Homo sapiens: one gene and its partners. The protein of the gene in region 7 purifies or fractionates together with the protein of the main gene of each other region. This does not show direct contact. Each region holds a gene or a part of one and is shown on either strand. Other genes may lie near its edges. The genes, in order: CLK3, SNW1, PNN, RNPS1, CCDC9, GPATCH8 and LUC7L2.

Region 1 (3,500 bases), on a different chromosome or scaffold from region 7:
ATTACTGGTGGCCCCGCTAAGGCACCACGCGCACTAGAGGCCCCTCCAGGCAGGAGAGGTCTCGTCTAACAAGGGGGGTAGAAAGTAGAGAGGTAAAGTTTTACGAAAGGTGGCTGTACATCGCTCTTGGAGCCAATCGCCGATCCGGCACACCAGGTGACCCTCCTTGTCATCTTCCACACTCCGGCTGCTGCGCTTACTGCTCTGTTGGCTTCTCTGCATGCACCGCCCCCCGAAACGCCATCCGACCAATCGCATGGTAGGCGGTTCCGATTGACAGATTGAGGTGTCAGTCAAAGGCAGAGGTGGAGACGGTGAGGAGCCGGTGGGTTGGTTGGTTGGATTTTCCAGATCCCAGCATTTCATAAGGCACACAGCATATATAACGATAGGGATATTGCAAGGGACACGTCAAGACACAAACTGACTTCAAAAACAGAAAAGTAAAAACAGCTACAGGTATGTAAAGAAAACTCGGACATTATCTTTAAGAGGAGCGCCACAAACGCTCAGGAAGATGACCTGCCTCTGCTGCTGAGGGCCACGCTGTGAGGAGAGCCATCGCCCCGACTCCCTCCTCCTCCTCCTCCGAGTCTCTCCCTCCCAGACCCTCCCATGTGGCTTTGGGCCAGAGCGGAAGATGCAGTGAGAACGGCGGCGCAAGAAGGCAGCTGGCCCCGCCTGGGTCCAACCATCCAGACTGGTCAGCGGCTGCTCCGGCTTCAGCTGCAGAATGCCCAGCCTGTCCTTGCCTGCCTCTGTTCGCCCACGCAGACTTGCACATGCCTGACAGCTGCCACTCACAGCCAAGCTGCTACCTGCCTCCAGACGGCATCCTTGGCCAGATTTCACCATCACTACCAGAAACAGCCTTCCGTCAGCAGCCCTCCTGCCACCAGCCTCAAGAAGGAAAGCAGCCTGGGATCCTCTGGGCCAGTCGACTGCCAGGCTTCCTACCACAATGGCCCACACAGGCCCCATGCCAGCTCCTGCCCTGGCCTTGGCACCCATGCTGCTCACAATCTAGGCCCATCCCAAGCCTCACGACGATCGATAGAGGGCACCAAACAGAGAAACAGAGCCAGACCTGCACTGCCATCCTGTGGCAGCATGTGGCAGTGTGCAAAGAGGTGAAAGGGCCACGCTGCAATCGCCCGCACAGTCAACCCTCAACCTGTAGCCACTCAAAGAAGTCACAGAAAGCGCTGGGCAGAGAAGACACCTGGCCTCTCCACTGCTCCTCAGGGGCCTCAAGGCCGGCAGGAGGGAGGCAGGGAAGAGGGATGGGGGAGAAGAGAAGACCGCACGTAACCTCGGAAATACACAACTGGCTTTGCTTCCCCAGGGGACTGAGCGCAATGTGGGCTCCAGAGACCTTACAACCCTCCATGCTAGGAATACTGGCCAGGCCCTGCTCTGGGCATGTGGCCTGCAACTGGACGAGGCCTGGGGCGGCAGCCTTTCTGCCATTTCTTCACATGCCCCATCACACAGGCACCTGCCCCTCCTCACCGCGACTGCCCCTCGTAAAGAGGCTCGGCTGGAGAGGGCCTGGCTGGAGATCAGAAGGGAAGTTCCCAGTCTGAGCTGGCTGACAGGCAAATCCTCCGGTCCTGTGAGGCACTCCAGACTGGGGGCCTTTGGGAAGGGGTGTGCAGATGAGACGCAGAGGTGGGTGCAGTCCACATCAGAGCACTCAGTTACACGAGGAGGCAGTCTCTGGGTGGGAAGGACCAGGCCATATAGCTGCAGACCACCATACCAGCCACTCTACTAGGATCCCTAAGAAGTGTCCTAAGAAGTGTCCCCAGCCACTTGCACCACGTGGCCTTTGTCTGGAGCACTGTGTAGACATAGACAGGCCAGGGGCCAGCCAGCATCGGAGCCAGAGTTCCTACAGTTGCCACTGGAAAGAGCCAGAAGACACAGAGGCCAGGACCCTGTGATCAGCCCTACACCTGGACCAGACAACACATACACACACACATGCACGCACACCAGTGCACGTGCACAGGGCTGGCAGTACTCACCCGGACCAGCCAGCCTGAGAGAAGGCTAGGAAGAGATGAGGCCTTTAAGCCCCAGCCAGCACACTCTGGCTACCACTCACCGAGGAGGCGCTGCTACAAGACCTGGTGCGGCGTTTGTGGCAGTGGTGGGCATGCTTGCGGGTCCGGTATGGCCCCCTCTCCCGCGATCGCCGACGATGACGAGAACGTGAAGGTCCATAGTAGTCCTCTCCAAAGGATGGGCTCCGCTCTTCACACCGGTATGTATCGCTGTCACGGCGCTCCCGGTACCTCCTCTGGTAGGGCAGGCGGTCATGGCTGCCAAAAGGGGGATGGGGACGCTGGTCAGCTGGGTCCTTGCTGTTAGCAAGCAAGAGACCTGTGGTAAGGCCACTGTAAAGGGCTAAAGGGGGACAGCCTGTGCTAAAAGCATCCACACTGGTGGGAAGTGGGCAGAGAGGGGAGGGTGCAAAGGTACTAAGCCCGCCCTCCAGAGCCCTGTCCAACGACAGCATCCTCCAGCTGTAGGAGGAGGGGTACAGGGGAAGGGGAGTATGGTAGAGTGCCTCCAAGGGTTCTATACCCTTCCAGAGTTCCCTGTGGCCTGCTGCAACTCTAAGTTTGACCTGGGAGCTAAGATAGGCCCAGGGAGCAAACTTTCCAGGGGTGAGGTTATGTTCCTAATCCTCACCAAGGAAGGCTTAGGAGGTTAAGCGGAAAGATGCTGGCCTAGAAAATGGGGGAATGTGTGGGGAGAAGAAAAGGCACTCCAAGACAGAGAAAGAGTGGGCGGCAAGGATGGTAGCTACTGCTGAGGCCAAGGCATGCAGGTGAGGTTAGTGGAGGAGCCCAAAGAGGACAGGGCAGGGATCCAGGGACAGCTGGGCAGGGATGGAGTCATCTCAAGGAGTCTGGAGCTGCCACAGCTGAGCCCAGCTGACAGAAGGAGTCTTTCCCTCCTATCTAGTTCCCTCTCACCTTCTGGACCGAGATCTTCGTGGGGGAGGCTCCCTTCGGGACGGGTATCGCAGTCTCCCTTCATGTTCCCGACTGTAGGACCTCCTCCTCTTCCATCGGTAGCTCAGGTACGGGTCTGGTTCAGGGGAGCGGTATCGCTTACAGTGATGCATCTAGGCCACGAGGAACAGAGAGCCCTGCTAAACACACAGCCAGCCACCTCCAGCCATGGGGCTGCTGGGGCTTCCCGGTTGCTCCTGAAGAGGCCCATTGTTCTGTTTGAAGGCGGCCCCTCCCAGAGGTTTATGAAGTGAAGAAGAACTCTGAGGTCACACTGGTCAAACAGCAGACAATAGGAAACAACTTTCTCTGCCAGTGAACAAACAAACAGCTCCCAGCAGAGCATCACTAGCCTGGTGGCCTGGGTGCTCAGGGAACTGGGTGAGCCAGGGCCAGGGGCTGAGGCAGTAACCCTGGGTGGGGACGGTGAACACTACCACAGGGAGATCAAAGGCAGGAGAAAGGGGAGCCTCC
Region 2 (3,500 bases), on a different chromosome or scaffold from region 7:
CCATTATCGAGGCTTCTTCTGATTGCCTTAGTAGTAACCCCTCCCCACCCAATCATTTGCTCCATAGCACTGTTTACTGTGATCAAGACTGTTCACAGCATGAAATTATCTACTTTACATGGTTATTATCTGTCTCCCGTATTAAAACAATAAAAACGGGGAGGGCACGGTGGCTCACGCCTGTAATCCCAGCACTTTGGGAGGCCGAGGTGGGTGGATCACCTGAGGTCAGGATTTCAAGACCAGCCTGACCAACATGGTGAAACCCCGTCTCTCCCAAAAACAGAAAAATTAACCAGGCATGGTGGTGGGTGCCTGTAATCTCAGCTACATGAGACGCTGAGGCAGGAGAATCGCTTGAACCCAGGAGACGGAGGTGACAGTGAGCCGAGATCATGCCATTGCACTCCAGCCTGAGCAACAAGAGTGAAACTGTCTCCAAAAAAAAAAAAAAAAAAAAAAGTGTCTCCTGTGCTTTATAATAATGACTGGAGATATTTGATCAATATTTTTTGTACAAATGAATAAATAAATGAATTTTAGAGATATTCTGTTACATGCTAAAGGTGTTTATAGGCCATGAACAGTGACTCACGCCTGTAATCACAGCATTTTGGAAGGCCAAGGTTGGAGGATAGCTTGAGCCCAGGAATTCGAGACCAGCCAGGGCAACATGGCAAGACCTATCTCTATTTTAAAGAATGGATGGATGAATGAATAAATAAATAAGTTTATATTTTAGGCCGTACAGAACTTTCTATAAGCTACTGATTTCCCAGAAAAAACTATCTCATGGCTATACACTAAAATCTCCAGCTTGTTTTTCTCAGGAGTGAGAAGAGGGATCAGGTAAGAAAGCCTAAGATGATTTAGCACAAAACACGTACTACTGATATGTGAGTTATTAGTGTCACCATACTCTAAGAGTGTTGATTTTGGAAGGGACCATAAAGCTCACTCTACTGAAAAGAGTGAGGTTCAGTACATTAAGATCATACAGCTACTATCTGACCTCAAAAGTCTTATTTCCTCTCAGCATGGAAAAACCTATACAACCCTAAGCTGAAAATTATATAACAACACAAGAAAAAAATACCAATTCTATGAAGAGTTAATCATGAGGAGTTTATCACTTCTCCATAGCAACGGTTATAAGGAAAGGATTCTAAGTAAATGGCTCCCTGGTAGTCATGTATGTTCAACATAAAGTGTCAATACTAATTTAGCATACAAGAGTCATTTGCTGCTCCTTATTTGGGCATTCCAAAGTTAATAACCCTTCAAATGAGCATCAATAAGATTCTAGTATCTCACAAGGCTGAGTGAAGGACATCTGAAGAGCAAGATTCCTCCATAGTAATTAATTATAAAACCCCCCATTTTTTTTTTTTTGAGACGAAGTCTTGCTCTTGTTGCCCAAGCTGGAGTGCAATGGCGTGATCTCAGCTCATAGCAACCTCCGCCTCCCGGGTTAAAACCATTCTCCTGCCTCAGCCTCCCTCCCAAGTTGCTGGGATTACAGGCGCATGACACCACGTCCAGCTAATTTTTGTATTTTTATTAGAGATGGGGTTTCACCATGTTGGCCAGGCTGGTCTCGATCTCCTGACCTCAGGCGATCCACCCGCCTCGGCCTCCCAAAGTGCTGGGATTACAGGCGTGAGCCACAGCACCTGGCCAAAACCCCAAATTTTTATAGTCTGAGAATTAAATGTGCTGAGGAAACTGAGTACCAGGAGGCAAATGGGCTGGGGAGCGTTTTCTGAAAAATACAATATACTCTTGAAAGTATCAGAAGCACAAATAAGCTTTGTCAACAAGATAAAGTAGTAACTCATCTGTGAAACAGATATTTTATTACAGAAAACTGGCAAAGAACTAGACTGACTAAAAGGATAAGCCTGTCAAAACATTCACTATGTGAGGTAGAAAGAAAACGCTAATCTAGCTTAGCTAGTGTGTGAAATCATACAAACAAGATAACATATAATTTATCATGGGGTCAGTTTAAAGTTGTTACGGTTTTTTAGGGGTAATACGTTGAAGGCATTCTTTTGGGTATAGTACGTGTGTAACATTTCGTTTCTTTAAGAGATAGGGTTTCATTATATTGCCCAGGCTAGTCTCAAACTCCTGGCCTCAAATGATCCTCCCACCTCAACCTTCCCAAAGTGCTGGGATTACAGGCATGAGCCAATGCACTTGGCCTGTATGTAGTATTTCTTACATAACTATTTCAGAGGGAAAAATACATACACCAAGCCCTTTATTTCAAGATTTATCACTTGGCTGGGTGTGGTGGCTCATGCCTGTAATCCCAGCACTTTAGGAGGCCGAGGTGGGTGGATCACCTGAGGTTGGGAGTTGGAGACTAGCCTGACCAACACGGAGAAACACTGTCTCTACCAAAAATACAAAATTAGTCAGGCGTGGTGGCACATGCCTGTAATCCCAGCTACTCAGGAGGCTGAGGCAGGAGAATCACTTGAACCCGGGAGGCAGAGGTTGCGGTGAGCTGAGATCGTGCCATTGCACCCCAGCCTGGGCAACAAGAGCAAAACTCCGTTTCAAAAAAAAAAAAAGATTTATCACTTTCATAATTAGGAAAAAAAAAGCATTTGGTTGTATCAAGATTTACACTAAAAAAAACTTTTTCATCCCCAATTTTGTATGACTAATAAGTCGTATACACAGTACTTACTTCACATGTAGAGAATTGCCTTAGACTTGTCCTAGAATATTACGTCTTAGAATCCTCACTGATTCTTCTCACCTCTTATACCTAACACCTAGTATTTTCCATTCTTACTCATTCACTATTAATATTTCAGTGAGAACTCCCTCGTTTCTGAAGAATACCAGACCTCTCGGAAGCAAATCAGAAATCTTAGTCCAAATTCATAAATCCAATAACCTGTTCAGTCTCTGGAATAACAAATTTTTTAAATCCTATTTTATATATTATGCAGTCCATTTCTATTTCTTCTAAAACAGGAAAATCAGTGATTGTCAAACAGGGCATCACTGCCACCTCTAACTCCTCTCTCCCAGTGCCTTTGTAAATGTGTGAGGTGTTTCTAGTTAAGACAATGGGGGTAGGATGGGGACGCTACTGGGATTTATAGGTAGTGCCACTTATGCTAAACATTGTACAATGCTGAAGATGGTCCTAAACAATCAAAGTGCTCCCCCAGTGCCAATGGCACATAATAGTTACTTGATTAATGTTGAATTACTCAATGCATTCCAAACTTCATGCATGAATCTATCCACTTCTAGAAAACAAACAAACAAAAAGATATAAACCTGAGAGTGGTCCCAGTTTGGGGTTTGTTTCTAGTGGCTGCATTACAGACAAAAGCAACGATCTGGCCGGGTGTAGTCGCTCATGCCTGTAATCCCATCACTTTGGGAGGTTGCAGTGAGCCAAGATCGTGCCACTGCATTTCAGCCTGGGTGACAGAGTGAGACTCCATCTCAAAAAAAAAAAAAAAGAAAAA
Region 3 (2,734 bases), on a different chromosome or scaffold from region 7:
ACCAGAAATGGAATTTGAAATTGAGCCAGATAAAGAATGTAAAACCCTTTCTCCTGGGAAAGAGAATGTCAGTGCTTTAGACATGGAAAAGGAGTCTGAGGAAAAAGAAGAAAAAGAATCTGAGCCCCAACCTGAGCCTGTGGCTCAACCTCAGCCTCAGTCTCAGCCCCAGCTTCAGCTTCAATCCCAGTCCCAACCAGTACTCCAGTCCCAGCCTCCCTCTCAGCCTGAGGATTTGTCATTAGCTGTTTTACAGCCAACACCCCAAGTTACTCAGGAGCAAGGGCATTTACTACCTGAGAGGAAGGATTTTCCTGTAGAGTCTGTAAAACTCACTGAGGTACCAGTAGAGCCAGTCTTGACAGTACATCCAGAGAGCAAGAGCAAAACCAAAACTAGGAGCAGAAGTAGAGGTCGAGCTAGAAATAAAACAAGCAAGAGTAGAAGTCGAAGCAGTAGCAGTAGCAGTTCTAGTAGCAGTTCAACCAGTAGCAGCAGTGGAAGTAGTTCCAGCAGTGGAAGTAGTAGCAGTCGCAGTAGTTCCAGTAGCAGCTCCAGTACAAGTGGCAGCAGCAGCAGAGATAGTAGCAGTAGCACTAGTAGTAGTAGTGAGAGTAGAAGTCGGAGTAGGGGCCGGGGACATAATAGAGATAGAAAGCACAGAAGGAGCGTGGATCGGAAGAGAAGGGATACTTCAGGACTAGAAAGAAGTCACAAATCTTCAAAAGGTGGTAGTAGTAGAGATACAAAAGGATCAAAGGATAAGAATTCCCGGTCCGACAGAAAGAGGTCTATATCAGAGAGTAGTCGATCAGGCAAAAGATCTTCAAGAAGTGAAAGAGACCGAAAATCAGACAGGAAAGACAAAAGGCGTTAATGGAAGAAGCCAGGCTTTCTTAGCCATTCTTTGCAGCAGAAGATTTCTTGATAAAAAAGGATTACCTTTCCTTGTAAAGAGGATGCTGCCTTAAGAATTGCATGTTGTAAAAAATCTTTTTGGAAAATACAGACTGTTTGTTTACCAGACATTCTTGTACTTTTTGCATAATTTTGTAAGAGTTATTTATCAAAATTATGTGAGGTTCCAAAATATGTAAAAATGATAATAATAAAAAAAGATTAACATCCCTTGTCATCTTTTTTAAATATCCTATACTCTTCAGTAAGAATCTGTATATTTTAATAGGCAAATCTTTAAGTCTGTTCCCTTCTAATTCTGTATCATACATTGCTTTTGTAGAAATAAATGTGTGTTTATTTCATTATTTTTGGGATGTCCTCGTTGACACTTGTATAATAAATATCCTCTTTATCATTTTCAGCTTTTAACACTAGATACTGCACGTGATTAGAATGTTTTTGAAGGTTTCCTCGTTTTTATTTGCCTTGGACAGTTTTTAGTTGTCAGAGTCAGAGCTTTGCAGCTTTGAGGGGGAACAGTTCTCTTTAAAATCATTTGCTATTTTCTATTCTCCCTTGTTATTTTAATCTAAGCATTTTCCCCCGTTTCTCATATTTTAACCATATGTTCGGTAGATAACTAAACAGTATGATCTGGTTGGCATTTTCTTCCTGATGATGGGAGCGTCATTCTTTTGTCTTCATGGTTACTTGTGTGATATAACATACATCTGTTAAAGAAAATCACTTCTTTCTAGGGGAGGGAGGTAGAAAAGTATCTTTCAAACTTGGTTTTTGAGTTTGTGTCTTGTCTTAACTTTGTGTTGGCTCTAACTTAAACATGCTGATATGTGTTTTCAAGAATTTTGTTTAAGGAAGTATTGTATGGAAGTCCACAAAATGAAGGAAGTTCATCTAGGTTTTAATATGTAAGCAAGATAACACACAAGTGTACCAAGTGATTATTAACTTTGTTGTTTTACAAATTTGTATGAACTTGGAGTATCTGTTGGCCATTACTATACATGTGCAAATAAATGTGGCTTAGACTTGTGTGACTGCTTAAGACTAGTACTTGTATTAACTTTCTGATGCTTTATACAAGAGAGCACTTAAATTGCATCCTTCTTTGAGTTTAACACTGTAGCTTTAGCCTTGACTTTGAATATTCATTTTGCCTTCCCTTGACAAGTAAATGGTTACAGTGAAAATGTGAAGAAGTATTTCCAGTTAGTTTTTGTGTGTATATAACTCACTTGTGTAAGTGGATGTGTTAAAAGATCTCTTTTTAAAAATCCTTTTATTGGAGTAATTATTAAAACAGTAAATGCATAGAGCTTTGCACAGCAATCTGTATCCATGAGCCAGTTCCACCACTAGTACCTTCATCTGTGGCTTATCCAGCAAAATGTTTCATTTCCTGTGTGCCCTGGCAGGAAAGAGGTTGGTAAATAGTGAATTAAAGGGATGATCATAAAATTTAACCTGGTTAAAAAGCACCTTATTTGATGACAGTTTGTATGCACTAAAATCCTTTATACAAATTAAGTTTTGTCTACTGATTTGTACCTGGAAAATCTGAACAATATTCATGTTGCTTACAGAAAAGGCTAGTATTGGCTTGAAGCTCTACTATAGGAGGGGTAGTAATGGGGGTATAATGAATGCTTGAGGGGAAAGTAATTTTCAGTAATTTCAGTTAAGCGCTACTGATCATAGTATGTGAAAGGAATTTTTCTTATATGGAATGCTTGATGAATTTGCATGTCATCCTTGTGCAGGGGCCATTTTAATCTTTTTTTTTTTTTTTTTTTTTCTCGGAGACAGGGTCTTA
Region 4 (3,500 bases), on a different chromosome or scaffold from region 7:
ATAAACTGTATAGATTCAGTAAATCCAGTCACTCAGCAAAATAAACTAAAAATGCTGAAATACTGGGAAACTTCTGGTTCTCAGAAATGATTAAAGGAAATATTCCCATATAAAAAGCCAAATGTATTCTATGTAAGAAAACTGAATTTGATCCTTAAGCTTTTAACAGATTGGAAACTCTCTAAAATGTTAATCTACGCATATTTGCTAATTTTTTTCCCCCAAGAATAGTGTTCCTTTAAACTGGAGCTACAAAAAAAAGGTGTTCCTAAAACATCTTTTCGGTAATCACACACCCACTAAGAACTGGAATCCATGCCGGGCGCGTTGGCTCACGCCTGTAATCCCAGCACTTTGGGAGGTTGAGGCGAGAGGATCACCTGAAGTCAGCAGTTTGAGACAGGCCTGGCCAACATGGTGAAACCCCATCTCTACTAAAAACACAAAAATTAGCCAGGTGTGGTGGCGGGAGCCTGTAATCCCAGCTACTTGGGGAGGCTGAAGCAGAAGAATTGCTTGAACCCAGGAGGTGGAAGTTGCAGTGAGCCAAAATCATGCCACTGCACACCAGCGTGGGCGACAGAGCAAGACTCTGTCTCAAAAAAAGGTGTGGGAGGTTGATTGTAAAGAAAATTCTGTATGTAAACATGCTGGCTAAAGTTAAAGGGGTATCATCTAGTTTTTCTGTAAATTAAGCATTAAAATTACGTTTAGGCCGGGCGCAGTGGCTCACACCTGTAATCCCAGCTGCTTTGGGAGGCCAAGGCGGGTGGATCACCTGAGGTCTGGAGTTCAAGACCAACCTGGCCAACATGGTGAAACCATGTCTCTACTAAAAATACAAAAATTAGCTGGATATAGTGGAGGTTGCCTGTAATCCCAGCTACTCGGGAGGCTAAGGCAGGAGAACTGCTTGAACCCAGGAGGCGGAGGTTGCAGTGAGCCAAGATTGCACCATTGTACTCCAGCCTGGGCAACAAGAGCAGAAAAAAGTCTCAAAAAAAAAAAAAAAAAGGATTGGGTTTTAACATTAACAGCACACTGATGTAAAAGTGAAATTTGGCTTATTTGGTACCAAAAATTATACAGGAAGCACTACCAAATATAAAATTGGGTTTGGCTTTGTTTGGGCTGTATTTGTATAAATGTTATTGATATGTGTCCCAAAATCACGTAAAACTCCTACAATTGCAATATATCCTAGTGTACATGATCAGTAATAATTATAATTGTTATGTTAAATTATTGTGTGCCACAGAGCTAACAAATTTCGTCAATTGTGTCTTTAACTATGGCTGCCCTAAAACCTTTTTGTCATCCATAAACAATTGTTGTCTTGTTTTAATCCTTTTTAGAAGGTGGTTTTATAATCAGCTATAGAGTTCTAACAGTTGCTCTTAAATACAGATTTCTAATAACTTTGCAGATTGTGACATCAGAATAAAGAAAAAACATTCAGGACTCTTAAAGAGCTAAAATAAGGCCGGGTGCAGTGGCTCACGCCTGTAATCCCAGCACTTTGGGAGGCTGAGGCGGGCGGATCACGAGGTCAGGAGATCCAGACCATCCTGGCTAACAGGGTGAAACTCCATCTCTACTAAAAATACAAAAAATTAGCTGGGTGTGGTGGCCGGTGCCTGCAGTCCCAGCTACTCGAGAGGCTGAGGCAGGAGAATGGTGTGAACCCAGGAGGTGGAGCTTGCAGTGAGCCGAGATTGCGCCACTGCACTCCAGCCTGGGCGACAGAGCGAGACTCCGTCTCAAAAAAAAGAAAGGTAAAGCGTTCATTAATATCAAGCAGGGCAGAAATTAACTGCATAAACTGAACTAATAGAACACTGAAGTAATCTTTTTAACTTTTTGCTTAAAATATTCCTAATCCTTTTATTTTTCAAAGTCAAAAAAAGTTTTAAGCTATCAACAATTAAGTATACGCCTAGGAACAAAACTTGGAGCATATTTGTTTCTCTCTACCTAATTTCTTCAGAATTTGGAAACTATTTGTGTGTGTGTGTGTATTCTTTTTTTTTTTTTTTTTTTTTTTTTTGAGACCTAGTCTCACTTTGTTGCCCAGGCTGGAGTGCAGTGGCGTAATCTTGGCTCGCTGCAATCCCTGCCTCCTAGGTTCAAGCAATTCTCCTGCCTCAGCCTCCCAAGTAGCTGGGACCACAGGTGTGTGCCATCATGCCCGGCTAATTTTTGTATTTTTATTAGAGACGGGGTTTCACGATGTTGGCCACGCTGGTCTCAAACTCCTGACCTCAGGTGATCCATGTTGCCCAGTCTATTTGTACGTATTCTTAATTTATAGCAATATAGTTATTTGCGTAAGTGCAATAAAAATCCGTTTTCTTTTGTAACAGAACACAAATAAAAAACCGGCCTCCTATTTTGTGTACACAGTCCCTGTACAGGGTTTCTAATCTGAGGGAAGTAAAACATGCCACTTTCTAATGGACAAAAACCTCAAGTTATCTTGGAACCTCAAGAGGAGAGGATTTCACCCAACTCACAGGTATTTAATTGTACATATCCATGGCTGGGCTTGGGTTTAAAAAGGTATTATCTCAGATAAAAGGCCTATAGAAAAAATTATGGTTCTTGCTCCACTGTATACAAATAATTAAGCCAAATATAATAAAGCAAACCAGTCTTGTCTTTTAATAAATACCAGTCCTATTTGTCTTTTAATAAAAATGGGAAGCCCCCAAAAAAAATTGTTGGCTGGGCATGGTGGCTCATGCCTGTAATCCCAGCACTTTGGGAGGCCGAGGCAGGCGGATCACAAGGTCAGGAGATCCAGACCATCCTGGCTAACACGGTGAAACCCCGTCTCTACTAAAAATACAAAAAATTAGCCAGGCATGGTGGTGGGCGCCTGTAGTCCCAGCTACTCGGGAGGCTGAGGGAGGAGAATGGCATGAACCTGGTAGGCAGAGCTTGCAGTGGGCCGAGGTGGTGCTACTGCACTCCAGCCTGGGCGACAGAGCCAGACTCCGTCTCAAAAAAAAAAAAAAATTGTTTCAAAAACTATAGTACACCCAAATACTGTTCTCAATTTTTTCCTTTTTTGTTTCCTTTTTCCTAATTGGAAATCACTGAAATCTAAGCTATGCTTTCCTCAAGCCCTGTAAACTGAAGACTAAACTTGGGAAGAAAACAGCAGCAACCTACTTCTATGTGTGGCTGTTGCATCCTATTACGTTTCAGCAGGTGCTGCCTCGAAGCCCCCAGAACAGAAAGTGCTACCGGGAACAAATCCACCTCTTCCACTCCAGCGCTGTGTTTGGTGCCCCATGACGACAACCCTCTCTCAGCAGGAAGCAGCCAGAAAGATTACAATGCTTCATCTCCCTACGATTCTCGTGATTAATAAATACATATACATGCATGATAAAAAGCATGAGCAAATTGACAGTGGGGATTGTGGCAGGCCAGGTCTCACTAACGCAGGCCTCTGTAACAAGTGTTTTAGTACTGTCTGAGTAGTTAAATATTAA
Region 5 (2,965 bases), on a different chromosome or scaffold from region 7:
TTTCCAAAACCCCTGAGCTCGACTCCAAAATTCTAATCCTTTCCTTAACCCCACCTCCTCAACCTCCATACCAAATTCCTATTGGCTTGGCCCATAAAGTTGCCCCTTTGCCCCACCCCTGCCACCCGGCTCCAGCCCCCCATCCCTATCCGAGCTCACCCTTTTCACCTCACCTCTATGGTCCAACTGCTACCTACACACATTCACCCCACTCCCCCCAAGCCCTCTGCCCCTCAGCCCCAGAGAAAGAGGAAGCAGCGGCCTCCATCCCATGCCCCATGCACTCCCCCACCTGGAGTTGCCTCAGACCCTTCCTCTTCAGCTTCCTGGGTTCCTCGGAGGCTGGGCCCACTCTCCGGGAAGGCAGGGGCTGACTGGCCACCTCCTAGGGAAGGGGAGCCCCAGTCAAGCCCCCTTTCCCGCCTGACATCTCCCCACCCCAAGAGAGAAGGCCCAGGGGGAGTTGAAGGGGGTTCAAGGACACACCTGGGGGAATGTCATTGGAGGATGTGAATTCTTTATTGGGGAGGGGGCTCGAAGGGCTGGGGCAGGCTCTGGGAGTGGACATTCCAGAGACGGGCATGACAGTACAGAAGAGCATGGGCTGCGCTACCCCCTCAGCTGACAGGGCTGTGGGGCACACTGGGTCCCAGGGCCCAGCCCCAAGGGTCCCCCACCAGCCACACCCCTCTAGCGCGCGCGCGCGCGCGCGCGCGCGCGCACACACACACACACACACACACACACACACACACACACACACAGGCAGCCAGCTTCATACACTCTCAAAAGGCCAGGCCTCACCCGGGGAGAGGGCGCCAGCCAGGTGAGTGGTCCGGGGAGAATTCAGCTCCACCTCTTCACCCCAATCGGACACAGGCTGGTGGCCGCTGGGTGGTGAGAAAGGGCTGGAAGGCGTGCCAGGGGCCTGGGGCTCCAGCAGGGGCTCCTCCGGACTGAAGGGGACTCCGTGGGCCTGCTCACTGCAGGGGATCCCGGTGGGGGCAGCCTCTGGGGCTTGGTGGTCTTGGGCTGGTTCCTCCTCATCACCTTCTTCCACCTCGATCTCCTCCTCTTCCTCATCCTCACTTATGTCCTCCCATTCTTCATCCTCTTCCCCCTCATTCTCTTCCCCCTCGTCTTCAGGAGGCCGGTGGGCAGGAGCTGGGATCTCGGGTGGCTTTGGGGACACAGGCAAGTCAGGGCAAGGCACAGGTCCTGAGCCCCCACCCCAGGCCCGTGCCCTGAACCACAGCCCAGCCTCACCTGCATGGGTGTCTCCTTGGGGGAAGTCTCGGGGGAAGTAGGCTGTGGAGTCTCAGGGGCTGGGGATGCTGCCCCTTCTTTTGTCTCCCAGCGGTCATCATGGTCACTAGAGGGAACAGAGGGAGGGGTGATGCCTGGGTGGAGAGTAGACAGGAGGAAGGGGCTTCCTGCCTCCACCCTCCCTAGGGAGGAGCTGCCCAGAGCATCTGGCATGGTGGAGGGCTGAGGGAATGGCGGATGTGTGTCCCCATGTGTCAAGGACAGAACGAAAGTGGGGCAGGTAGCAGGAGAGGAGATGGGTGACGGCAGAAAGGGGACAGATGAGGGTAAAACCAAGAGCCAGATCCCAAGCCCCTCAAACCACGGACCTGCGAGATAGACAGGGCCAAGACAAAGACAGGGACAGACAGATGTACCCACACCTTCACAGCAAGCCAAAGAAGAGAACGCCCTGCGGAGAGCCCTGGGGGTATGCAAGCCCGCAGAAGGGGTGCCCCACCTGTAGGCCCTGGGCGCTGCCTTGGCCTGGGGCCGACTGCTCTTTCTCCTTCTGCGGCTGCTGGCCTCAGCTTTGTGCTGGGACAGGAACTCCCCAAAAGTAGGGGGCTTCGGGGGCCGGGCCCAGGCCTGGTCATCTGCAACAGAACCCAGGTGTCATTGGGAAGGGAAGGTGTGGCACACACCACCCCTGACTCCCAGACCGAGCCTCAGCTCATCCAAGGGCACCCACTCACCATAGCGGTGGGATGGTTCATGGGCAGGGACTGGGCCATCCTTGAACCTGGGGGAAAGATAACGGGTGAGCGGGCAGCTGGGGGAACAGGGTAACAAGAGGATCAAGAAGATGGGAGAGGTCAGGGTCAGGAATCGGATCAGAGACAGACGGTCAACCAGACAGGGGACACTAGAAGTAGGACAGGGCCGGGCATGGTGGCTCAAGCCTGTAATCCCCGCACTCTGGGAGGCCGAGGCAGACAGATCGCTTGAGCCCAGGAGTTCAAGACCAGCGTGGTGAACATGGTGAAGCCCCACCTCTACAAAAAATACAAAAATTAGCTGGGCGTGGTGGCACGTGCCTGTAATCTCAGCTACTCGGGAGGCTGAGGAGGGAGGATCACTTGAGCCTGGGAGGTCAAGGCTGCAGTGAGCAGTAATCAAGCCACTGTACTCGAGCCTGGGTGACAGAGGGAGACCCTATCTCAAAAAAAAAAAACAAAGGATAGGACCAGGTGATGGGCAAGAGGCAAATTTGACAGCATAGTGACAAATACAAAAAGATTCAGAATGTGGGCGCCAAAACAAAAATTTGGGGGGATCACCACAGACCCTTGCCCAAGTACATGACCCACAACTCCCTATCTGACCTTTCCCACCAGTCTCCCTCACCTCTCCAGCTAAGCAGGCTCTTCCACCACACCTAGCTCCTGCCTCAGGGCCTTAGCGCCTGCTCCTGGAACGTTCTTCCCACGTTTTTCACTGGCTCACTCCCTCACCTCCTTTCAGGGCTCTGCTAAGAGGCCTTCCTGAACCCCCAGCTAAGATAATATTAGGGCCGGGCACGGTGGCTCACGCCTGTAATCCCAACACTTTGGGAGTCCAGGTGGGCGGATCACCTGAGGCCAGGAGTTCGAGACCAGGGTGAAACCCCATCTCTACTAAAAATACAAAAATTAGCCGGGCTTGGTGGCTGGCACCTGTA
Region 6 (3,500 bases), on a different chromosome or scaffold from region 7:
TAAGAATAAAACTTGGTCAAAGATTGCCTTTTACCTGTGCACTGAAATCTTATGGTTGGTGGAAGATGAAGGCTAAAAAAAAATCTTAGTTCAACAAGTCCAGCTTAGGAGACATCATTCCAATGCTCATAAATTTACAAGTTTAACAAATACAACTATTGTACCCCCCAAAAACCTAGTAAGTTATGTTAAAGTCACCCAAGATCAAATGGCTTGAAATTCTTTAACAAGCCAGAACTGTCCTATAGGTGTAACAATTTATTTTTCCCTTCTAAACTCTCCCAGGGGGATTATTGCCATCTTCTGTATATCAGTAACTAGTTAGGTACAATTTTCTCCTCTAAAATGATGGGGTGGCGGCGGGGGAGGGGGCAAAGACTGCAAAGTGTAATTCATTTATCAGCTCTTCAACATGCAGCAACAGAGTTTTTTGTTAAAGTTAAGATAGCATCTAATTTTATTTTCCTTCTCAAAATTTATCTAACTTCCAAGGTATATTGAATAGCAAAATGACTTAATAATAGAAAATGGTAGCCAATAAAGCATGAAATCTTATGTAGGGAACTTGAAAATAACAGTCTGCTGAATAACTCTTCAAAGTTTAACGCGTTAAGAGCAGAAATGGAAACAAAGCTCCCAGTGACCCTCAGCTGAATTACAAAATTAAATAAAAACTTAGAAATCAATAAAAGGCAAAAACATTATATAAGATTTACAAAACACAATTTGTCAAATAGTGTATATGTGGGAGTGTGGGCTGGAGGTGGTGTCTATGTCAGGATTTCTGCCACTGAAAAAACAAAGTGTGTTGGATGACTGCAGATAAAGATTGGCAGACACAAGAAATCATAGACACCAAGTTTTGGGGGGTATACTCATAAAATCCAATTGTTGTAACAATAGATAGGTACCTTCTTCTGTTAGCAAGTAACTACAACTCACCTGCTTGTGTGCATGATCATAGGAGTTGATATGGTTATCAAATTCCTGATGTTTCTGATATTGCTTATCACACAGTTCACAATAAAAGTTGGCTCTGAGGTCTTCCAAGGCTTTGGCAATTGCCTTCTCTTTGTCAACATAATCCTTCAAGACCCATGAAATACAAAGAAACAAAAAATGAACTTGGTAAAACTTTAAGTGAATGTTATAGAGAAAACAGTCTATCTGAGAAGACAAAAAAGGGCTTTTCATAATATTTAGTGGTACCAGTAAAAGCTGGATGAAACACAAGTGGTACTTTGGTGGGTAATCTGTGTGTCGTCATACTAACAATTGTCTTCAAATAAACAAATGTTTAAAAGGACTAAGGATGCTCAACTGATAAGTATAATGCAAATATTCCAAAACCCCCAAAAAATCTGAAATCTGAAACACCTTTGGTCTCAAGCATTTTGGATAAGGGATATACAACCTGTATTAATAGTCTAGTTTTCAGACACGAAGGAAAAAAGCATTACCTGAGTCTGTAGCCAATGATGGAGTTAAATATTCTATGGTCATTCTACATATAAGCTGCACTGCTTGGAAAGCCAACCCACAGATATGTGTTATCTGCTGGTCTCAGCGAGATTGAAAACTGTGGGACTCTTACATGTGAGAGGAGGTTGGAGAAAAACAACAACAACAAAAAACTGTGGGACTGACTCAAAGGCAGTCCAATTTGCCTCAGCAGTTTCACTTAAAAACTAGACATCAAAAGACATCTCAAAAAGGAAAAAAGAGAAAACAATTAAAAGATACCTCAAAGCAAGTTGAGTATATTCATTTGCTAATGTCGCACAGAAGGATGAGAAAGGGACAGGAATGCTAAGTGACTACTTGCTTGACTTTTAGAGCAGGGTAGATGCATTACTTTCATAATGAGCAACTCCTTCTAGCAGACTGACCTAAAAAAGATAAGTCTTATCTCAAAGACTATATCTACAGTTTCAAAGCAGCTCTATCATCTCCCATAAGAGCTACTTAATCAGTAAACAAGAAAAGGTTATTATTTTCTGGAGTGGCAGTACTGAACTAATTTGGACAGACTTATTAAAACTGAAAAGTGAGTATGTGTAGCACATTGTTATTTTTGCCCTATCTAATCCTTCACAATAATTTTCTTTGACAGTCCCGGACAGTTTCATGTTGTTTGGCTATTAAACGACTTGTGGCTTTTTTGCCCAGGCTGGAGTACAGTGCAGTTCATGGCTCACTGCAGTCTTCACCTCCTGGGCTCAAGCAATCTTCCCACCTCGGCCTCCCAAGTATCTTGGACTATAGGCGTGTACCAGCAAACCTAGCTAACTTTTGTATTTTTTGTAGAGATGAGGTCTCACTATGCTGCCAAAGCTGGTCATGAACTCCTGGGCTCAAGTGATCCTCCCACCTTGGACTCCCAAAGTGATGACATTGCAGGTGTCAGCCCCCACACCTGGCTGCAAATTTAAGCAACAAAACTAGAGTTCCTGGTATGAATACAGCAGTATAGGAAAACAGCTTTGATTTTCTTCTTGGGTATCATAAAAACAAAATTATGAATTAAAAAAACCCCACCAACTGCATTTTCAGAAGAACTGGGCAACAGATATGATCTGGAGTATGAAAAACACACAGAAGGAAAGTTAAGCTCTTTATAGAACCTGAATGAGGGAAATGTAGTAGAAGCCAGACAAGGCAAAGCTAAGCAATATCAAAAAAGCCAAAGGTGGCAATTTCAGAAAATGGCAAAACATATATCCTGTACATAAAAGGATCCTCTGAAATGAATATACCTACATCTCTTGCACTCATCAAGAATTTCTGAGATCTGGGAAGAACAAAGGGATGAACTTGGGTTAGGGTGGATGAGGAAACATTTGCAGTACAAAGAATGCACATAGAGAAAAGCAAAAAGTTCTGCCCAATTGCGGCAGATCTAAGAAAAGGCTGAGGCCAGGTGCGGTGGCTCACGCCTGTAATCCCAGCACTTTGGGAGGCCGAGGCAGGCAGATGGCTTGAGCTCAGGAGTTCAAGACCAGCCTGGGTAACACAGTGAAACTCCGGCTCTACCAAAAATACAAAACATTAGCTGAGCATGGTGTCACTTGCCTTTGGTCCCAGCTACTTGAAAGGCTGAGGTGGGAGGACCACTTGAGCCTGGGACGCAGAGGCTGCAGTAAGCCAAGATTGCGCCACTGCACTCCAGCCTGGGTGACAGAGTGAGACCTTGTCTCAAAAAAAAAAAAAAAAAAAAAGGCTATCAGCACATGCTCACTAAAGGAAGATCCACTCAACTACACAGGACAAGAAAGGGCACATAGTGTGACAATGAAAATGGTCCCAGAACAATCAGTGACAATCAATAGTGTAGTAAAGTTATTGAATCTTAAAGACAGACTCCTTTCAGCAGCTAGGCAAAAACAATCAAGAAGGGGAAGATCAGGCCAGCCTTTGATCTCTTCAACAACACACACACACACTCTCTCTCTCTCTCTCTCTCTCTCTCTCTCTCACACTCTCTCTCAACTCCAGAAGAC
Region 7 (3,500 bases):
CCATCCTGATGCTGCTGCTTTTTAAAGATATGAGTAAAATGCTTGAGTTCTGTTGCTAGGTCTATCTGCAAAGACTCCCAAGTAGGAACCACTGGAGTTTTAACTTGGAGCCTAGTAACTATTTGCTATAGTGACTCTTTTCGAAATTTTTAAAAAATTACTTGAGATCACCCTAGCTACTCAGAATACTGAAAAGAGCCCACTGTTACCTGAGAATATGGAGATGTCCCTAGGCATTTTCTGATTCTATATTATTTTAAATGCTATGGACCTTGAGTTAATTCCAGTTGACAATAACAGTTACAAAGAAAATGACTATCCCATGTTTCCTATCTGTCAGCCAGACCTCAATTCATGAAAAAACACTACAGTGCCACAATTCTTAAAAAGCTATCAGCATATTAAAAGGTAAATAGATTATATCCACCAACACTCATCTTTACCACTTCAGAAATATCACCATGCTTTTTTGTGTTTATCCCCTCTAAACAACAAGAGTAAAAACTGTGTTGTCTTCCCCACAAAAGCCTATATTATTTAAGTAATAGTGATTGTCCTTTTAAAAAAATATAAATTTTTTCATAAGTCCTTTCTGAAGTGGAAGCAGGAGCATAAAATAAAACTAGAGATTCTGCAAGCTTGCTATTTAATAAAGAATTGCAAAATATTTCAAATTAATATTGGGTTCATTTTCTCAAACTTCTTATAAATATTATATTATTACATTCTTATTGACCTTATTGAAAAGAACAATAACAATGAAGTTTTATGGGACTCTTTTAGTAACTAGTTTGAAAGATCCCTAACTCGGTGTCATATCTAATATAAAATGGTAACTCCCAAAATAACAGGATAATATTAAGTCTGTTTCTCAGGCAGCATCCATTAAACCAACTTGAATTTCCATCTATAATCCTACACTGTTTAGTATTAATCATTAGATACTATATTACTGAATCATAGTCAAGAATATTGTACAAAAAGGCAACTGATACAGATCAAAAGAACAAGAGGATAAAGTGAGGAATATTTTACCAATGTACCTTTAATTCTTCAAGCTTCTCTCTTATTTCAATAAATCCCAGGTGCAGTTTACCCCCAAAATGATCAGCCAGTCGTCTGTCATTATCATGAAGTCCTAAATAGGCAGAGCAGACTTCACAGACTCGAAGTTTCTGCTGCTGAAAACTGGAAGCTGGCATAGAATTCCGATAAACTTCCTAAACAAAAGTGAGAAAAACAATGACCATATAAATCTCACTAAAAGTCATACAATTAAATAAAATATACTATGCTTATACCAAAAGTGTTTTCTAAAAAATACACAAAAGTGGCTGGGCACGGTGGCTCACTGGGGCGAGACTCCAGCTCAAAAAAAAAAAAAAAAAAAAACCACAAAAGCATGGCTATTTTGTTATGAAAATTATAGGTTCCCTTTATCCCCATCCTCTATCCTTAGCGCCTCTCTCCACTGGAGTATAAGGAAATAATAAACATGAACAGAAATCAATGAAATAGAAAACAAGAAAAAAACAATAAAATCAGAAGACTGGTTCTTTGAAAAACAAAATAAAACTGACCAGCTAGATTAATTAAGAAAAGACACGAATTGCAAACATTCTACAGATATTAAAAGAGAACACTATGAACAACTTTATATCAATAAATACAACTTAGAGAGATTTTCTGAAAGACAAATTTACCAAAAGTATTTTAAAAAACAACAACAACAAAAAAACAGGCCAGGCCGGGTGGCTCACGCCTGTAATCCCAGCACTTTGGGAGGCTGAGGTGGACAGATCACCCCAGGTCAGGAGTTCAAGACCAGCCTGGCCAACATGGTGAAAGCCTATCTCTACTAAAAATACAAAAAATTAGCCGGGCATGGTGGTGCACACCTGTAGTCCCAGCTACTCAGCAGGCTGAGGCAAGAGAATCGCCTGAACCCAGGAAGCAGAGGTTTCAGTGAGCTGAGATCGCACCACTACACTCCAGCCTTGGAGAGAGAGTAAGACTCTGTCTTAAAAAAAAAAAAAAAAAAGGCCCTGGTGCAGTGGTTCATGCCTGTAATCCTAGCACTTTGGGAGGCCGAGGCAGGTGGATCACCTGAGGTTGGGTGTTCAAGACCAGCCTGACCAACATGGAGAAACCCTGTCTCTACTAAAAATATAAATATTAGCCAGGTGTGGTGGCATGGGCCTGTAATCCCAGCTACTTGGGAGGCTGAGGCAGGAGAATCGCTTGAACCCGGGAGGCAGAGGTTGCGGTGAGCTGAGATCATGCCATTGCACTCCTGCCTGAGCAAGAAGAGCAAAACTCCATCTCAAAAAAACAAAAAGAAGAAGGCTGGACTTGAACTGGACTCAAGCGATCCACCTTAGCCTGCAAAATAGCTGGGACCAAAGGCACGCACCACCACAACCAGCTTTTTCCGAGTTTTGTTTTGTTTTTGTCTTTTAGTTCAACTTCTCTTTAACAACTGTTCAATAATTTCCATTCAAATACATGTTCTTAGAGAAGTATAGATACTGAAGTTTCATCTACTACTTTTTATTTGTAGTCTTACCAAATTAAGCAGAATTCGTCTACTACTATTAAGAATTTACCTCTGCTTCTCTTTTCTTTGCCCGTGCTTTCTCTACTTCATCCATTACTTTCTGGGATTCCTCCACATTCCCTTCAGCTCCTAGTTGTTCCACCTTGGCTAACAATTTACCAATTTCTTCATTTAACTCATGAACACGTTCTGCCTAAAAAGAAATAAAAAAGAAGATCATGAATAAACAAGAGAATGAATTTTAAATTTCAAAGTATTTCAGAACTGCTGAGAAAAAACTTGTTATCTAAGGCAGTATGTGGTTAAAGAATGCTTTCTGAGCGTATCCCAAATGAACTACTGAGACATCAGGATGTTCTGAGCCTGCCTGCCTTACCTCAATGAAGTCAGGGCTACTACTGGGCCCAATATAACTTTCTATCCTCTGGCGAGGTGGTGTATTCCTAGTGTAAAATACGATTTCTTCCATGATCTGGCCCTTTGTACTTTTCTAAACCATCTCTTGCTACTCCCCCACCTCACAACATAATTTATAGTTTCCCCAAACTTACCCTGTTGTTTTCTACCTCTGTTACTTTGCATATACTCTTCTTTCTGGGATGGGATCCCTTACCTCTCGCCTGCCTACTGAATATTCACTCGTTCCAACAAGATACAACTCAAGGGCCATTTCTGTAAAACATTCCTGAACAGTCACCACATCCCAGCCCCACTTAAACACATCAGCAAAGATGGCCATACTCTCTCCTTTGTGTCACCTTTGTATCTTTTTTGACAGTTCCTTTCATAAATATCATACTACTTTAAGGACAGCTATCTGTATTTCCCATCTTTGTATCTCTAGTGCTCAGCAAATAGCCTAGGCTCAAATATGAGTTAAAGAAATGAATTGGTGGATCAAGTTCAGGAATCCATCAGATCTGACTTATTGCTAAACCAATTA

The links.
Region 1: the proteins of LUC7L2 (region 7) and CLK3 purify together in Homo sapiens (affinity purification with mass spectrometry; 4 studies listed by BioGRID and IntAct, with this or other methods). This does not show direct contact.
Region 2: the proteins of LUC7L2 (region 7) and SNW1 purify together in Homo sapiens (affinity purification with mass spectrometry; 3 studies listed by BioGRID and IntAct, with this or other methods). This does not show direct contact.
Region 3: the proteins of LUC7L2 (region 7) and PNN purify together in Homo sapiens (affinity purification with mass spectrometry; 4 studies listed by BioGRID and IntAct, with this or other methods). This does not show direct contact.
Region 4: the proteins of LUC7L2 (region 7) and RNPS1 purify together in Homo sapiens (affinity purification with mass spectrometry; 6 studies listed by BioGRID and IntAct, with this or other methods). This does not show direct contact.
Region 5: the proteins of LUC7L2 (region 7) and CCDC9 purify together in Homo sapiens (affinity purification with mass spectrometry; 4 studies listed by BioGRID and IntAct, with this or other methods). This does not show direct contact.
Region 6: the proteins of LUC7L2 (region 7) and GPATCH8 purify together in Homo sapiens (affinity purification with mass spectrometry; 4 studies listed by BioGRID and IntAct, with this or other methods). This does not show direct contact.

What each region holds. Positions count from the first base shown.
Region 1 is NC_000015.10:74,618,836-74,622,335, reverse strand, and holds part of CLK3 (dual specificity protein kinase CLK3), read right to left. Parts: intron 3,140-3,500; coding exon 2,988-3,139; intron 2,328-2,987; coding exon 2,111-2,327; intron 217-2,110; coding exon 120-216; intron 1-119. UniProt on the Homo sapiens protein: Dual specificity kinase acting on both serine/threonine and tyrosine-containing substrates. Phosphorylates serine- and arginine-rich (SR) proteins of the spliceosomal complex.
Region 2 is NC_000014.9:77,740,657-77,744,156, forward strand, and holds part of SNW1 (SNW domain-containing protein 1), read right to left. Parts: intron 1-3,500. UniProt on the Homo sapiens protein: Involved in pre-mRNA splicing as component of the spliceosome. As a component of the minor spliceosome, involved in the splicing of U12-type introns in pre-mRNAs.
Region 3 is NC_000014.9:39,180,987-39,183,720, forward strand, and holds the end of PNN (pinin), read left to right. Parts: coding exon 1-877; 3' UTR 878-2,234; downstream 2,235-2,734. UniProt on the Homo sapiens protein: Transcriptional activator binding to the E-box 1 core sequence of the E-cadherin promoter gene; the core-binding sequence is 5'CAGGTG-3'. Capable of reversing CTBP1-mediated transcription repression.
Region 4 is NC_000016.10:2,258,127-2,261,626, forward strand, and holds part of RNPS1 (RNA-binding protein with serine-rich domain 1), read right to left. Parts: intron 1-3,500. UniProt on the Homo sapiens protein: Part of pre- and post-splicing multiprotein mRNP complexes. Auxiliary component of the splicing-dependent multiprotein exon junction complex (EJC) deposited at splice junction on mRNAs.
Region 5 is NC_000019.10:47,269,489-47,272,453, reverse strand, and holds the end of CCDC9 (coiled-coil domain-containing protein 9), read right to left. Parts: intron 2,048-2,965; coding exon 2,001-2,047; intron 1,902-2,000; coding exon 1,766-1,901; intron 1,373-1,765; coding exon 1,267-1,372; intron 1,181-1,266; coding exon 776-1,180; 3' UTR 501-775; downstream 1-500. UniProt on the Homo sapiens protein: Probable component of the exon junction complex (EJC), a multiprotein complex that associates immediately upstream of the exon-exon junction on mRNAs and serves as a positional landmark for the intron exon structure of genes and directs post-transcriptional processes in the cytoplasm such as mRNA export, nonsense-mediated mRNA decay (NMD) or translation.
Region 6 is NC_000017.11:44,423,407-44,426,906, forward strand, and holds part of GPATCH8 (G patch domain-containing protein 8), read right to left. Parts: intron 1,087-3,500; coding exon 943-1,086; intron 1-942.
Region 7 is NC_000007.14:139,404,894-139,408,393, reverse strand, and holds part of LUC7L2 (putative RNA-binding protein Luc7-like 2), read right to left. Parts: intron 2,751-3,500; coding exon 2,607-2,750; intron 1,221-2,606; coding exon 1,044-1,220; intron 1-1,043. Other genes in the region: FMC1-LUC7L2 readthrough protein, read right to left, coding at 1,044-1,220, 2,607-2,750. UniProt on the Homo sapiens protein: May bind to RNA via its Arg/Ser-rich domain.